2 separate regions of the Homo sapiens genome follow, and region 1 is linked to region 2. Evidence: fine-mapped expression QTL. Tissue or cell type: whole blood. Region 2 holds a variant in brackets; the other region holds the start of a gene. All regions are shown on one strand. Distances are between the middles of the regions.

Evidence for each region. PIP is the estimated chance that this variant, and not a neighbour inherited with it, causes the effect.
Region 1: it holds the start of PTGER4, and the variant in region 2 is fine-mapped to the expression of PTGER4 in whole blood (INTERVAL, PIP above 0.99).

The regions. Positions count from the first base shown.
Region 1 is chr5:40,674,952-40,683,039 of GRCh38, forward strand. PTGER4 (prostaglandin E receptor 4) reads left to right here and starts at 4,964. Exons shown (of 3, transcript NM_000958.3): 1 at 4,964-5,527; 2 at 6,000-6,909. The coding sequence starts at 6,043. RefSeq lists a silencer at 4,627-4,846 and an enhancer at 5,982-6,509.
Region 2 is chr5:40,410,846-40,418,954 of GRCh38, forward strand. No RefSeq gene overlaps it. Among named protein-coding and RNA genes, the nearest start is that of LINC00604, 170 kb to the left of the region's middle. The variant T/G (reference allele first, on the strand shown) is at 4,023.

The DNA of each region.
Region 1 (8,088 bases), 260 kb after region 2:
GCAGAGGATGGAAGGAGAAAATCCAGCCCATTTAGCTTCTCTCATGGCAGGCTAGGTCTTGCCTCCAAATAATATTATGCAATGGAGGATTCTTACTAATAGAAAAGGAGTTCAGCTGCTGGGCAGCCTTTCAAAACTGACAACACCTGGGCTGGGTGTGGTGGCTAACCCCTGTAATCCCATCGCTTTGTGAGGTGGAGGCTTGTGGATCGCCTGAGCCCAGGAGTTCGAGACCAGCCTGAGCAACATGGGGTAACTCCATCTCCACAAAAAAATACAAAAATTAGCCAGGCATAGTGGCACCTGCCTGTAGTCCCGGCTTACTTGGGAAGCTGAGGTTCACTGGACCCCAGGAGGTGGAGGTTGCAGTGAGCCAAGATCGCCCCACTGCACTCCAGTCTGGGGGACAGATTGGGACCCTGCCACAAAAAAAAAGAAAAAAAAAAACACTCCCAGCATTCGTTAACCAAACTTTGATTTGCTCATCTGTGAAATGGGCATCTGACTGCCTAGTACCTTCCTCATAGGTTTGCTGTGAGAATTTGACAGCGTATGCATGTTGCAGTTAGCATGATGTCTCACATAGGCTGAGCATTGGATAAATTTCAGCTATTCTTACTAATTCTTGTGACTCTCAGCAAGCCACATAGAATCTCTGTGCCCACATTCTCACTCACTGAAGGAAGATTACATCAACCATACTAAATTAGTCAGCATAGGCTAACTGCTGAAACAAGGGACCCCTCAAATCTCAGTGCATTATTTCTCATTCACTTCATTGTCCAGTGAGGGTTGCTGGGATTGGAATGAGGTCCATACAGGCACTCAGAGGCCAAGTCACCTTCTATCTAGTGGCTCTGCCATATACCCGGGACCTGTATTATGTTGGCAGAGGACGAACAATAGCACAAAGGACTGGGTTTTATAGGGACCCAGCCTGGAAGTGGCATATATCAATTCTACCTCTATTCCATTGGCCAGAATTCAGTCACATGAGCTGCACCTAACCACAAGAAGTCAGTTTGGGAAATAATACGCAGCTATGTGTTCCAGAGGAAATGGAAACAAGATTTGGTGCAACACAGCAGACTCTGTCACACCTACCTAACCTCCTCAGAGGGTTGCTAATAAAAGCGCATGTGAACGCCAAGTGTGAAACTGCTATGGAAAGTGATAAACTAACATGAGCTACAGGTGATGCTGCTGCTATTGATTAAGCCAGGGAGTTTCTGTGCATCCTCCACATTGCTAAAACATACAGCAATTTGGGTATGAGAAGAAACCGAAATATAATCAGAAGGTCCTTCCTCCTGTAGGGGAGACTCTTTAACTAGTAAGGCTTTATTTCTCCACTTGTATCTTCAAAAATGGGCCACTCTGGGAGCGGTGACTCACGCCTGTAATCCCAGCACTTTGGGAAGCCGAAGGGGGTGGATCACAAGGTCAGGAGTTCGAGACCAGCCTGGCCAATATGGTGAAACCCCATCTCTACTAAAAATACAAAATTAGCCAGGCAAGGTGGCACATGCCTGTAATCTCAGCTACTAGGGAGGCTGAGACAGGAGAATTGCTTGAATCCAGGAGGCGGAGGTTGCAGTGAGCCAAGTTGCACCACTGCACTCCAGCCTGGGCGACAGAGCGAGAATCTGTCTCAAAAAAAAAAAAAAAAAAGGCCACTGCAGGTAAATAATCTCCTTTCTTTGCCCATTGGTCCAATCCACATGGGCGTGTGGTGAAACTGGAGGGAAAAAAAGGGAGCGAGCAGAATAAAAGAGCAGAAAGCTATTACTTTGAGGAGTGTAATTGTCAGAGCAGGCTGTCAGAGCAGCCTGAAGCAATCACTCAGTAGGGGCCAGCCTCCACAGCAGTAATTTATCACCACATGAAGATGTTGGGGAGTTAATCACAGCACTGACATGTGTCAGCTCCAGGCATTGGGCTCAGCATAAACTTCATGCTTAGAAAATGAAAATAATTAAGAGGGCACACATTTGAAATGTACCACTAAAAAGGGAAGGCAGTCATCTTAGGGTCAGGTGAATGCCATGTTTGTAATCCACTAAACCAACTGGAAGAGCCTGTGGAGGGCAAATGTGTCCAAGGGTACTTTGCTATTTGTACCTGATAGATGCCTTTCACACTGTTTTGAGTCTCTGCATGGCCTGTCATGAAAGAGAAAAGCAAACACAATTTGCACAGGCTTTGCTACATGAATATTAGTGCTTCAGGAATGCTCTAAGATCCTGCCAGCTGCGGCTCAGGAAGGGGTCCAGGCCAGATCTGACTCATCCTGCTGCCTTCCTCCTGGAAATGATCCCCTTTCTCACCCCACTCCTGCTGGCTGAGCCCAGGTCCTGTCTGTCCCATATTTCCTTTGATCCAAGGAAAACTAAAAGTGGTTACTAGCTCCCAAGCGGCCTTTGTTTATAAATGGGTTCCCACCTTAATATGTTTACTCAAAAAACTCGTCAAATAATTAGCTATAACAGAGCAATCAAACTGATCAAACAGTTCTTGGAGTAGTTCAAACCTTCAGAGAGTTATTTAATGACAGTTTTAAATAACTGAACTGGGGTCTTCCAGCATAGAGAAGTAGGGATTGTGGCAGAAACTGCGAGGGAGAATTTTTAAAGTGCTTAGAATAAAAATCTTTTCATTGAAAAAAAATGACAAGAATTGCCCACATAATTATGGCAATTTTTCCTTTCCTTTTGCAATGCAAATTCCTGGCAGAGTGTAAGAGAAACTGAGCTCCACTGTCCCAGTTTTTCAAACTAAGAAAATAAAATAATTTGCTACCTAAACTTTCAACTTCTACTTTTGAAAGCTAAATTTAAGTTTTAAGAATCGTACAACAAAAGAGACTACAGATAAACCTCATTACAATTTTTTAGTATTGAGCATTAGGTTATTTATTTTCCTTCTTCCTAAAGCTACTGTAGAAAGAAAATTCAAAGGACTAGTAAGAAAAATAGCTCAATTGATAACAAGTCTGGTTTGTCAATGACATGCTAATACCTGTAACAGTTACTAATTATCTCAGCAGTGTGTCTCAGTTTTTATATTTAATATATTCTTCATCATTCTTAAATTAATAAATAGCAACCAATTGTTTTCTCTTTTACAAGCTTCATATGGAAAGAAAATTGAAAAAAAAAATTTGTATTAGCAGAAAGTGAATATAAGGGACTTCCCAACCTCCCCTCCATATATTTACTGACAAGCAACTGACATGAGTGATAGCAAAGCAATGTGGTTAGTGAGGAATGGCGCAGAGTGTGCAGTTTCCTTTTTTCTAATGTTGATTTGTTTTCTGTGCTGACACAATCCTAGAGGTTACTGTTCAAAGGAAGCATCGACAACAGAAGTGATTAGAGTACTGATTAAAAGAAGATTTTTAAGAAAATGACCAATCACCATCAATCTTAATATTGGCTAACAAATGTGTATTTTTCTTTCTCATATTATTAAGTAAATAGTATAAACAGAATAATTCTTTATTAGTATATCCATATAGTGCCTTTTGCAAGTAAATATGATTCTGGATATTTTATGACCTGTAATTACTTGAAATCGGAAAGCCCTTTTAGTTTCTCTTATTACCCATGTGTTGCTGAGACTAACTGAAGAACCAGTTAGGAGGTTTGTTCGTTCACGAAATAACATTTAAGAAATGGGTACCTGCTTATCACATAAAAGAATCCAGTTATTTACTTACCCTGTGAGGAGACATAATATGTTAGAATGCTTGTACACTGCAGATGGGAAGAGGTTTTTCCAGGAATTTAAATTGTGCAATAAGGCCACACAATCTTACTTAAAAAAAATGGTGAAGGGGTTTTAATTACACCATGAAGTTTTACAATTTTTTAGGTTTTTAGTTCTGGTTTTAGAAAACAGAGTAGAAGGATTACAGAGAAAAACTTCACCATTAGACAAGAAGTCAAAATGATTCTAAGGGCCGCGCAAACAGGCTTTTCCAAGAATTAATCATGAGGTGGTGCTTGGAGAATTCCTTTACTCCAGTGACTTTGAAACCCCCTTCTCACTCTCCACTAGTCTTTCAAAGGATTCATGGTGAATTGGGTCTAACGAGTATAACACGGCCGGCCGAAGGCATGAAGCTCACGCTACCCTTTCAGGGCGGAGAAGTTCCCAGGAGGAAGAATGGAGAAAAAGATCGCAGTTAGGCAGTCCTCCCAACCTCACCAAGGCTCCACCTCTCTCCAAAGCCGCAAGGCTCTGCCACCTGCGCCGGGAGAGGCTGCAATCACTGTCTCCTCCTCTTTCTTTCTCTTTTTTTTTTTTCTTTTTTGCCTGGGGTGCCCGACCAAGCGCAGCCCGCAGTCTGGGCACTGCCAACTGACTCCAACTCCTTTTATGGTGAGAGGATGGATTCTTCGTTATTTCCCCGCCCAATCTGGTACCCACCCACCCACCCACCTACCACGTCCGCTGGGCGCACCCAAGTCTAACCCCGGGGCGCACGCGCTAGCGCAGACACCGTATTTCTTCTCCTTTCTCGGCCAACCCTAGGTAGAATCCTAAAACAACTGCCCTCTCTTCCACGATCTAGATGTTGCGGCCCGCGGACAGGAGGTTCAAGAAATAGTACACTCCGAGCGGCAGGCAGCGAGGCGGAAACGGTCGCCGGTTTCAGTGGTGGCCCCACTGGAAGCCGAGTTCAGGAGCGGCTAAGCGGTCGCCGGGGAAAGCACCGGGGCTTCCCAGGGTCCCCTCCGAGTTCCCACTCCGCACCTCCGAGGGCGTGAAAACCACGGGAGCCGCCCCACCCCGCGCGCCCAGCCCCGCCCCAGCCCAGACACCGCCCCCCGCCAGTCTTCCCTGCGGCGCCCAGGGAGGACGCGCTCCGCCCCCTTCCAATCCGGCCAATGGGCGCCCGGGCAGCGCGCGGTTTGCCTCCGCCTCCGCCAGGGAAACTTGGAGGAGGAGAAAAGTTTGTACAGAGGGTGGAAAGGCGAGAGCGGAGCTCCAAGCCCGGCAGCCCGAGAGGAAGATGAACAGCCCCAGGCCAGAGCCTCTGGCAGAGTGGACCCCGAGCCGCCCCCAGGTAGCCAGGAGCGGCCTCAGCGGCAGCCGCAAACTCCAGTAGCCGCCCGTGCTGCCCGTGGCTGGGGCGGAGGGCAGCCAGAGCTGGGGACCAAGGCTCCGCGCCACCTGCGCGCACAGCCTCACACCTGAACGCTGTCCTCCCGCAGACGAGACCGGCGGGCACTGCAAAGCTGGGACTCGTCTTTGAAGGAAAAAAAATAGCGAGTAAGAAATCCAGCACCATTCTTCACTGACCCATCCCGCTGCACCTCTTGTTTCCCAAGTTTTTGAAAGCTGGCAACTCTGACCTCGGTGTCCAAAAATCGACAGCCACTGAGACCGGCTTTGAGAAGCCGAAGATTTGGCAGTTTCCAGACTGAGCAGGACAAGGTGAAAGCAGGTTGGAGGCGGGTCCAGGACATCTGAGGGCTGACCCTGGGGGCTCGTGAGGCTGCCACCGCTGCTGCCGCTACAGGTGAGATGGCGTTGGGCTGACGTTGGGGTCAACGGGTAGAGAACGCAGGGATGCGGCCCTCGCCGAAGAGAGCCAAGAAGGGAAGAGCGCGCTCTCCAAATTGCTTTTGTAACTTGTTTTCAGTGAGCATTTTATTGATTCAGAATCTATCGAGAATAGCACTAGCGAGCTACTTTTCCCTTGAGATGGGTCTTATTCATCTTGGCAATGGAGTGAGTTGGATTGTGGGGAGGAAGAGGAATGGGAAAATCAGTTTATAAATATTAATGTCAGCAAGAGTGTGCTGTTGGCAGGACGTATCGCGAGCCTGGAGATTTTGGTGGCCGCAGTTGGTAAGTGGCTACAATCCAGAAAGTAGGATCGAGTTGCTCCCCTTGTCTTATCAGTGTATCGTTTCTCGGGCGCGGGTCTAACACCTTACAAGTGGTAATTTCCGCTCACGGCAGCTTTGTCTCTCTTCTACCATCCCCAGACCCAGCCTTGCACTCCAAGGCTGCGCACCGCCAGCCACTATCATGTCCACTCCCGGGGTCAATTCGTCCGCCTCCTTGAGCCCCGACCGGCTGAACAGCCCAGTGACCATCCCGGCGGTGATGTTCATCTTCGGGGTGGTGGGCAACCTGGTGGCCATCGTGGTGCTGTGCAAGTCGCGCAAGGAGCAGAAGGAGACGACCTTCTACACGCTGGTATGTGGGCTGGCTGTCACCGACCTGTTGGGCACTTTGTTGGTGAGCCCGGTGACCATCGCCACGTACATGAAGGGCCAATGGCCCGGGGGCCAGCCGCTGTGCGAGTACAGCACCTTCATTCTGCTCTTCTTCAGCCTGTCCGGCCTCAGCATCATCTGCGCCATGAGTGTCGAGCGCTACCTGGCCATCAACCATGCCTATTTCTACAGCCACTACGTGGACAAGCGATTGGCGGGCCTCACGCTCTTTGCAGTCTATGCGTCCAACGTGCTCTTTTGCGCGCTGCCCAACATGGGTCTCGGTAGCTCGCGGCTGCAGTACCCAGACACCTGGTGCTTCATCGACTGGACCACCAACGTGACGGCGCACGCCGCCTACTCCTACATGTACGCGGGCTTCAGCTCCTTCCTCATTCTCGCCACCGTCCTCTGCAACGTGCTTGTGTGCGGCGCGCTGCTCCGCATGCACCGCCAGTTCATGCGCCGCACCTCGCTGGGCACCGAGCAGCACCACGCGGCCGCGGCCGCCTCGGTTGCCTCCCGGGGCCACCCCGCTGCCTCCCCAGCCTTGCCGCGCCTCAGCGACTTTCGGCGCCGCCGGAGCTTCCGCCGCATCGCGGGCGCCGAGATCCAGATGGTCATCTTACTCATTGCCACCTCCCTGGTGGTGCTCATCTGCTCCATCCCGCTCGTGGTGAGTGACCGGGGCTGGGGCCCTACTCGGCCTTTTTCTCGCATCCACCTCCCGCGTCCATTCCCCGCTCCCTGCTTTCCCTCTGAGTCCTTGGCAGTGAACGTGTCGCCTTTAGGTCGGGGCTGGGATTCCCACACTGTTTCTCAGAGCAGGCCCAACCCTCTTTGAAGTCCCAACCCTAACGAGATTTAGCAGGTGCTTTGCCCCTACATCCCCCAGTTTATGTTCCCGGAAGCCTGGGTTTCTTTCTCCACCGAGACAGCCCTTACCCCTTGCTGCCTGACACTGGCCGAGTCTTCCAAGAAAACCCCCCGCCCCCTCTGTTAGACGTGGAGGGGAGCCTGCTGTAGTGTGACTTAGCCCATTCCTCCGTACTGTGAACTGTGAACTGCAAAACCTGAAATGTCAGGGATGGTGATCTGTTCGTTGTAAACCATTTTTAAGGAAAGTGGGGTTTTTGGTGTTTTGATGTATGCAAGGTTTCTTGAATTTCTTCCCCCGTGGATTGCGTAGAATTTTAAAGCTAGAAGAGATATCAAGAGGTGTTTTAGTCTAACTCCCTCACTTCACTGAGGGAGTGAATGATACGCTTAAAATAATCCAGCCGAACCTACACAGTCAAGCTAGGCTCCCTGCTCTTTACCATGGTGTGCCCTGGGAGGGCAGCTTAAAGCACACAAATTCTAATTCATATACAGGGCAGGGTCCAGACTCAGTTTCTTTCATTCTGTCTAGACCAGGAAAGCAAAGTTTCTCAGGGTGACTAATTATGGACAGGCTGATATACATAGGGTATGGGATTTGAATTCTCGACAACTGTGCGAGGTACAGTACCATTTTAGAGAAACCGAGGTTTAGAGATGGCTGTCTTTGTTTCTTCAAGCCAAAGCTCTACAGCTTGTAATGGACCTTAGGCCGTCTGAGGCCAGACCCAGCTCATGTGTTATTACATCACGTCTCCCTCGTAGAACATTTCTCATTTTGGCGTTTGTAAAGCGTGGGTTGGAGTTTTGGTACACTTCATTTTTAGTTCATCTTTTAAGAATTGCCTTTGGATTAACTTTTAAAATATGATAAACAGAAAGGCTCAAACCCTACCTAGTTTTCTACTTTGCCTGTGGCTAAAATGGAATGCACCAGAAGCAGATGGGCAGAATAATGCAATACTTTATCTAGAGT
Region 2 (8,109 bases):
AAGCCTCCAACAGTCAACAGTACCATTTTTAAAGTAAATTTTGTACACCTCCCCCACTCCCCAATCATGCCCTTTTTAATTACTGCTTTCGCTCTCATTAAAAGAATATAAGTTTAAAATTTCGAATGTGGATGTCAAGTTTTGCTGTTATCTTTAGTGTTGTTTTCTATATGAATGAGCCTAGCTTTCACACTATGGACACAGCCTGTTTAGACAAGAGCAGTGCTTATGTAATCATAGCTTCCCAAACCACAGCAACAGCACAAATTTGGCAGCTAGAAGGAAGGAAGTGAGGGTGGGGAAGGGAAAAGGAAAGAAAGGGAGTTTCTGTTTCAATCAAAGATATATTTGGCTCATATTTCCACCTCTTTTAACTGAGATTCCAACTCTACAGGAGGTCCTCTCCACTCATCCCTCCATGCCTGACCTGAGGAGCAGCTTGGCTTTTCCCTCGCTAAGGGAAAAACCTTTAGTACCTTCCTTCTCTACAAACATTAGAAACAGCTTAATCAAGTTGTCCTCAGGCAACAAGGATACTTCAGGCTTTCCAGGTATGACACAGCCTCTTCCCCTCCTATCTGCTAGCCAGCTAACAGCTCTTCCACTACTAGTGCTCTGCCAGTGTGCGTGACTGCCAAAGGCATCTCACTGGCCAAGTGGAAGGAAGCTTTCCTTCCAAGTCAAACATCCAGTCTTCAATGAATAAGCCCTATGTGCTGAAACATGCCTCTTTTCCCCAGTCACCTTACTCTTTAGGAAACTGTGGTAGGCAAGTAAAGACTCCCCAAAATACTTATATTCATATCCTACTCCCTGGAACCTATGAATATGTTGGGTTACATGGAAAAAGGGAACCAAGATGGAATTGAGGTTTCTAATAAGCTGACTTTAGAATAGAGAGATCATCCTCCATTATCTGAGTGGGCACAACATAATCACAAGGGTTCTTAAAAGTGGAAGAGAAAGACAGAAGAGAAGATCAAAGTGATACCATGTGAACAGAACTCAACCAGCCATTGCTGGCTTTGAAGATGGAGAAAGGGGACCATGAGGAAAGGAATGTGGGCAGCCTCTAAAAGTTGGAAAAAGCAAAGAAGAGGATTCTCCCCTAGAGCTTCCAGAAATGTACACAGCCCTGCTGATGCTTTGAGTTTAGCCCAGTAAGACCTGTATCAGACTTCCTACCTGCAGAACTGTAAGACTATAAATTTGTGTTGCTTTAGCTACTAAGTTTGTGGTAATTGTTATAGTAGCAATTAAAAACTAATACAAAAACCATTGGTTCAAGGCAAGTCCATACTGCTTGGGAAGCCACCTTCCATTTATCAAAGACTCTCCATTGAGGCCCAGGTGCACAGCTCATTCCATCTGGGCATGTGGTTCCAAGTCTCTCCATTGTACCCTGGAGATTGACACCAGACCACATCTGCACTGCCATTGCTTACATTTTTCTTTCATGTTGGTCTTCCCTAGAAATTTAAAGAATTACAGATCAAGAAAAGCTGGATGCAGTGTTGCACACCTGCAGTCCCAGCTACTTGGGACTTGGGAGGCTGAGGTGGGAGGATTGTTTGAGCCCGAGAATTTGAGTCCAGCCTAGGCAACATAGCAAGACCTGATCTCTAAAACATAATTAAAACAAAAACAAAAACAAACAAACAAAAAAAACAAGCTCTAAGTGGCATGAAGTTCATGGCTTTGCCTCCATAAGAACTTGTCTTAATATGAAAATCTCTTTGTTTAGCAAAAGCATAAATGAGTTTTCCAGAAAACCAGCCCTTTACTAGTGATATAGTGCAGGGTGAAGGTCTAGACCCCAGGGCCTTCTGCTCTGAGAAGATCAGACTGCTCAGGTCCAGACAATCCTGGCTATTTCTCACAAGCTATAGGAGGAGACAAGTTATTTAACACCTTACTTCTCTATTTTCCCATGTGTAAAATGGGAAAGGTAATAATATCTACTACATAGGGTAGTTGTAAGATGAAATAAGTTAATTCATATAAGAAGCTTAGAGCAGTACCTGGCACAGAGCAAGTCTCTTTGATCACCGTCATACTTTGTCATGTCTTTGGTTCTCCCATCATCATGATTTTGCATATCCTGATAGCATCTGTTCTTGCCAAAGGTCTGACTTTCCAACACACACTTTCCAAAAGGAAATAAAATGATGTACTTGTTTCCAGTGGCCATCCAAATGTAAAATCCATGTTTGGAAAACTTTGCAATGCTTCTTTTATACTTCTAAGTGCCCCTTGATTAAGGTTAAAGTAAGTTCCTCCAGTGGTTTTAAAGCATAGGTCACTCAAAATTAACTCCCATAAGCTATTTTACAAACTTCCTTTTGAGAAGTAATTCCTCAAAATGTAAAAGGCAGAATATTAGCTTCAAAAGTACGTGGAGTATTCATTAAAATGTAAACTATTGGGCTTTACTGAAGATTTAACGGAGGCCCACAAGTCTGAATATTAACAAACATATTACATATAGCATGTGATTGTTATGCATACAAAGGTTAAGAATCATTGCCTTAACATATCTTTAGTTTAAAGCCTACCCTAATTTTATTATACTAGATAGTTTGGCAGGTAAAAACAACTAAAAAAAAAGGCCAGGTTTAGCAGATTTGTACATCATTCTCTCATAAGATGTTTAAAGCAAATCAGCCATTTACTTTCTCAAGAAAGAGAAATAGGAAGGCCTGGCATAGTAAAAAAAAGTGATTCACTAAAAGAGAAGTGCATTTATTATCTTCTCATAGCACAGACACAACTGTATGTGTGTCTGTGTATATACATGTAAAATATATACACATATGGATATAGAACAAGTGAGTTTTATAATGCAGTCTTTGCAACACAATTATATGTGGTTTTCACAATGGACCTTCCATTATCAAAATCTAGATTCTAATATTGGAGTATTTGAAAAGAACCCACGTATGATAATAATATTGAAAATGCTACTTGTAACTGAATGCAATCCTTATTAACTTTCCTTTAACTTGTGATATAATTGACATACAATTATCAGCTCATAAAACGAAAAGAACATTGCCTCAGCATGTATATTGTGAAATAAAGGGATTACGTGTCAAAAATGTGCCAGGAATAGAAGGGTTGACATCATCTACAGCTTGGTGATGAGTTTTCCTTACAGATTTCCAAAAAAGGAAAAGCAAAACTATGTTTTGGGAGGCAACATCAAATATTTTTTAGTACTTTCTTCATCTTATTGGTTGTTTTATTTTCGTAGTGATAAATTAGTGTTCAACTCCAAATATTTAATGAAAATGTTTTATGGCACATATGTGTTCATGTGGCTATATTTTTCCCCCAAAGTGTGAATAGTAGAGTATCTACATCAGAATCTTCTTTTCTTTCTTTCAAACAAGTATCTCCAACCTTACCCTAAGCCTCTCATATTAGGGCCTAGAAACCCACATTTTTAGCAAGCTTGTCAGGTGATCCTTGCGCACATTTAATTTTGAGAACCACTTCTTTGAGAATATATAATGGAATTTAAATTTAATGATGTATTTTTTCTTATTTTTGAAGTATTTTTTAATTATCTTAATGTTTTATCTAAACTCAATAAAAATTTCTCTTTACCTAAACTCAATAAACAGAAATCTAGCAAACTCATTCATGGGATATCCCACTTCACAAAAAATCATGACTAAAACTTTATAAGAATCAATTAATATTTGCCAAATAAATGAATAAACTAATTAATCAACACATGAGGAAATAAAATTCAGACGATGAGCTATGAATTCTTTGACTTGACAGAAAAATAAATCATTAAGTCTACATCATCTCTATTAAACTTGTACTCATAGGCCTAAGCAACACAGATTTATCTTAAAACCTATATATCCCACTGATACCTGCCCTTCATTTTCTCTTACTTGTCAAGGTGGGTGGGGGAAGGGGGCGGGAAGCATATTATTTATTCTCCAAAAACAGAAATGAATGGAATGTAAAATAAGTCAACAAAGTTTGAAATTTCTTGTTGTTGTTGT[T/G]GTGGTGGTGGTGGTGGTGGTGGTGGTGGTGGTATTATCTTTGTTTTGATTTTATGGATTTTTCCTGACACAGGTAGTATCACTCAAAAATTAGTTACCATCTGCATGAGTTCTTCTTCATGGAGGCCACGGTCTGTGTATGCTCAGGGGTTTGTTTTTGGCCCCATAACTCAAGAGTCTAGTTCACTGGCAATGCAGGTAGGAATCATCTGACTTGCTACTCCTCCCACGATATGTGTTTGTTCAAGTCTGTTTGAGAAATGATGTTTGCTTCCACTCAATGCCAACAGCAGTGCTGCAAGCATCTCAGCCTCTATCCACCGCCAAACAGGTGAGCAGGACTATCTATAGCACTTATCATTCGCATTAAGATGCCTGAGTCTGTGAATTATCTCTTTTACATTATGAGTTTCCTATTTAAAACTATAAAGAAATATTTTTAAGTGGTAGAAAATTCATAACATGGAAATGTTTTTAAACATTGTGACATTACTTCATGTGCTTTTTACAATTACAAATACATTTTTAGTTATTATTCTCCTTTTTCACTTAACAATATATATAGCTATTTTTCATAGCTACATTTTAAAAATAACAGTATAATGTTCCTTCAAATAAGCAAAGCATAGTTTACCTAAATTTCCCCTATTTTTAGGCATTTATCTTGCTTCCAATGTTTTACTATTATAAATTATGTTTTGATAATTACCAATTATATTTTGATGAGTATTTGTGGTGTTTTCTATATTTGGGGTTATTATCTTCGCACAGATTCCCAGTTCTGGGATTAATAAGGCAAAAGCAGAATACTTTTGTTGATTTTTTTGGAAAAGCTTACACCAGTTTATAGAACCCTAACAGAGGTAATAACATTCACTTTTTTTTCATCTTCCTTGTCAAAATTGGAAATACTTTGTCGTTTTTGCTAATTAAGTGAAGTCCCTTTGCTGCTACAGTAATCTTCAGTACTTTGTTATTTTGTTCCCAAAGCACATTTATTGTAAAGCTTCTTGAAAGCTGGAACCAGGGAAGAACTGATGCACAAAACAATTGCAACCAGCCAGGGAAGAACGCCTGAGACTGGGACATAATGCAGAAAAAGGAAAAGGCCAACTGAGTGAAAACAGAATGGGTTCAGGGTAGGGAAGAGCTCTACAGGGGAGGTCACAGGGCTGGGACTGGAGAATAAGAATGAGAACTCATAATTGTTGAACGCCTACTGTGTGCCAGCAACTATGCTAGATAATTCACATTATATTATTTAATCCTTGCAATAGTCCTGTATGCTAGTATACTGGGTTAAATAGTATCCTCTTAAGATTACATGTCTATCCAGAACCTCAGAATGTGAACCTATTTGGAAATAGAGTCTTTGTGGATGTAATTAGTTAAGATGTGACCACATTAGATTAGAGTGGACCATAAATCCAATGACTAATGTCCTTATAAAAGGCCATGTGAAGACACACACAAAGAAGATCATGTAATAATAGAGTTAGAGAGTGGACTGGTGCAGCTATAAACCTAGGAACCTCAAGAACTGCTGGCAACTACCAGAAACTAGAAAGAGGCAGGAAAGGATCTTTCTCTAGAGCCTTCAAAAGGAGCAGGGTCCTGCTGACTGTTTGATTTTAGACTTCTAGCCCCCAGAACTATGAAAGAATACATTTCTGTCATTTTAAGCCACCCAGTTGGTGATAATGTGTGATGGCATCCTTAGGAAACTAATACAACTAAGTATTTAGTCATGGTCTTCAAATGAAAATACACTTCAGAGAGACTCAATAACCTCTAAGGATATGTAAGTGGCAGAACCAGGATTCAAACTAAAGCAGCCTGACTCCAACTGTGTTCTTTCTTTCACATTTTGCTGTTTCATAGGAACCTTTGTAACCATAAAGCATTTACTGCCAATGTTCACAGCAAGTCAATACACTGAGACACCAGGTAGAGCAGAGAAAGAGGTTTAATCATAGGGCTACCAAACAAGGAAAGAGGAGGAAACTTCAAACATGTCACCCCAGGGAGTTTAGGGCCAAGGATTTTAAAGGTTTTGGGTTGAACCAAAGGGTGGCAATCATTGATGAATCAGAATGCAGGGTGAAGTCAAGGGACAGAGAGATGAAGAAATTGCATTCTCCAGATGATGGAGACCACCAGGATCAGTTCCTCTGTGGGGGTCTTCACTGGTTAGCATTTACTGTTCTGCTGGAATTTGTCACCAGAAAAACATCTTAATTCTTAAACAAATGCCTTATAATTTTAACCTCAGAAATCCATCCTGTAGGAACAATGGGGATGCAAATGGTCAATATGTGACTTTTAGTTACAAGGAAGTGGACCAAAGTGCAGCCTGATTCATCTTTAATTTATTTTTAATTATACTTTACGTTCTAGGGTGCACGTGCACAACATGCAGGTTTGTTACATAGGTACACGTGTGCCAAGTTGGTTTGCTGCACCCATTAACTCGTCATTTACATTGTGCATTTCTCCTAATGCTATCCCTCCCCCAGCCCCTCATCCCCCAAATGGCCCCAGTGTGTGATGTTCACCGCTCTGTGTCCAGCTGTTCTCATTGTTCAATTCCCACCTATGAGTGAGAACAAGCGGTGTTTGGTTTTCTGTCTTGTGATAGTTTGCTGAGAATGATAGTTTCCAGCTTCATCTATGTCCCTGCAAAGAACATGAACTCATCCTTTTTTATGGCTGCATAGTATTCCATGGTGTATATGTGCCACATTTTCTTAATCCAGTCTACCATTGATGGACATTTGGGTTGGTTCCAACCACAATAAACATACGTGTGCATGTGTCTTTATAGTAGCATGATTTATAATCCTTTGGGTATATACCCAGTAATGGGATCACCGGGTCAATTTGGTATTTCTAGTTCTAGATCCTTGAGGAATCACCACACTGTCTTCCACAATGGTTGAACTAGTTTACACTCCCATCAACAGTGTAAGAACATTCCTATTTCTCCACATCCTCTCCAGCATCTGTTGTTTCCTGACTTTTTAATGATTGCCATTCTAACTGGTGTGAGATGGTATCTCACTGTGGTTTTGATTTACATTTCTCTGATGGCCAGTGATGATGAGCATTTTTTCATGTGTCTTTTGGCTGCATAAATGTCTTCTTTGGAGAAGTGTCTGTTCATATGCTTTGCCCACTTTTTGATGGGGTTGTTTGTTTTTTTCTTGTAAATTTGTTTAAGTTATTTGTAGATTCTGAATATTAGCCCTTTGTCAGATGGGTAGATTGCAGAAATTTACTCCCATTCTGTAGGTTTCCTGTTCACTCTGACGGTAGCTTCTTTTTCTGGCAGAAGCTCTTTAGTATAATTAGGTTACCATTTTGGCTTTTGTTGCCATTGCTTTTGGTGTTTTAGTCATGAAGTCCTTCCCATGCCTATGACCTGACTGGTATTACCTAGGTTTTCTTCTAGGGTTTTTATGGTTTTAGGTCTAACATTTAAGTCTTTAATCCATCTTGAATTAATTTTTGTGTAAGGTATAAAGAAGGGATCTAGTTTCAGCTCTCTACATATGCCTAGCAAGTTTCCCAGAACCATTTATTAAATAGAAAATCCTTTCCCCATTTCTTGTTTTTGTCAGGTTTGTCAAAGATCAGATTGTTGTAGATGCATGGTGTTATTTCTGAGGCCTCTGTTCTCTTCCATTGTCTATATATCTGCTTTGGTACCAGTACCATGCTGTTTTGGTTACTGTAGCCTTGTAGTATAGTTTGAAGTCAGGTAGTGTGAAGTCTCCAGCTTTGTTCTTTTTGCTTAGGATTGTCTTGGCAATCCAGGCTCTTTTTTGGTTCCATATGAACTTTAAAGTAGCTTTTTCCAATTCTGTGAAGAAAGTCATCAGTAGCTTGATGGGGACGGCATTGAATCTATAAATTACCTTGGGAGGTATGGCTATTTTCATGATACTGATTCTTCCTATCCATTAGCATGGAATGATCTTCCATTTGTTTGTGTCCTCCTTTATTTCTATGAGCAGTGGCTTGTAGTCCTCCTCAAAGAGGTCCTTCACATTCCTTGTAAGTTGGATTCCTAGGTATTTTACTCTCT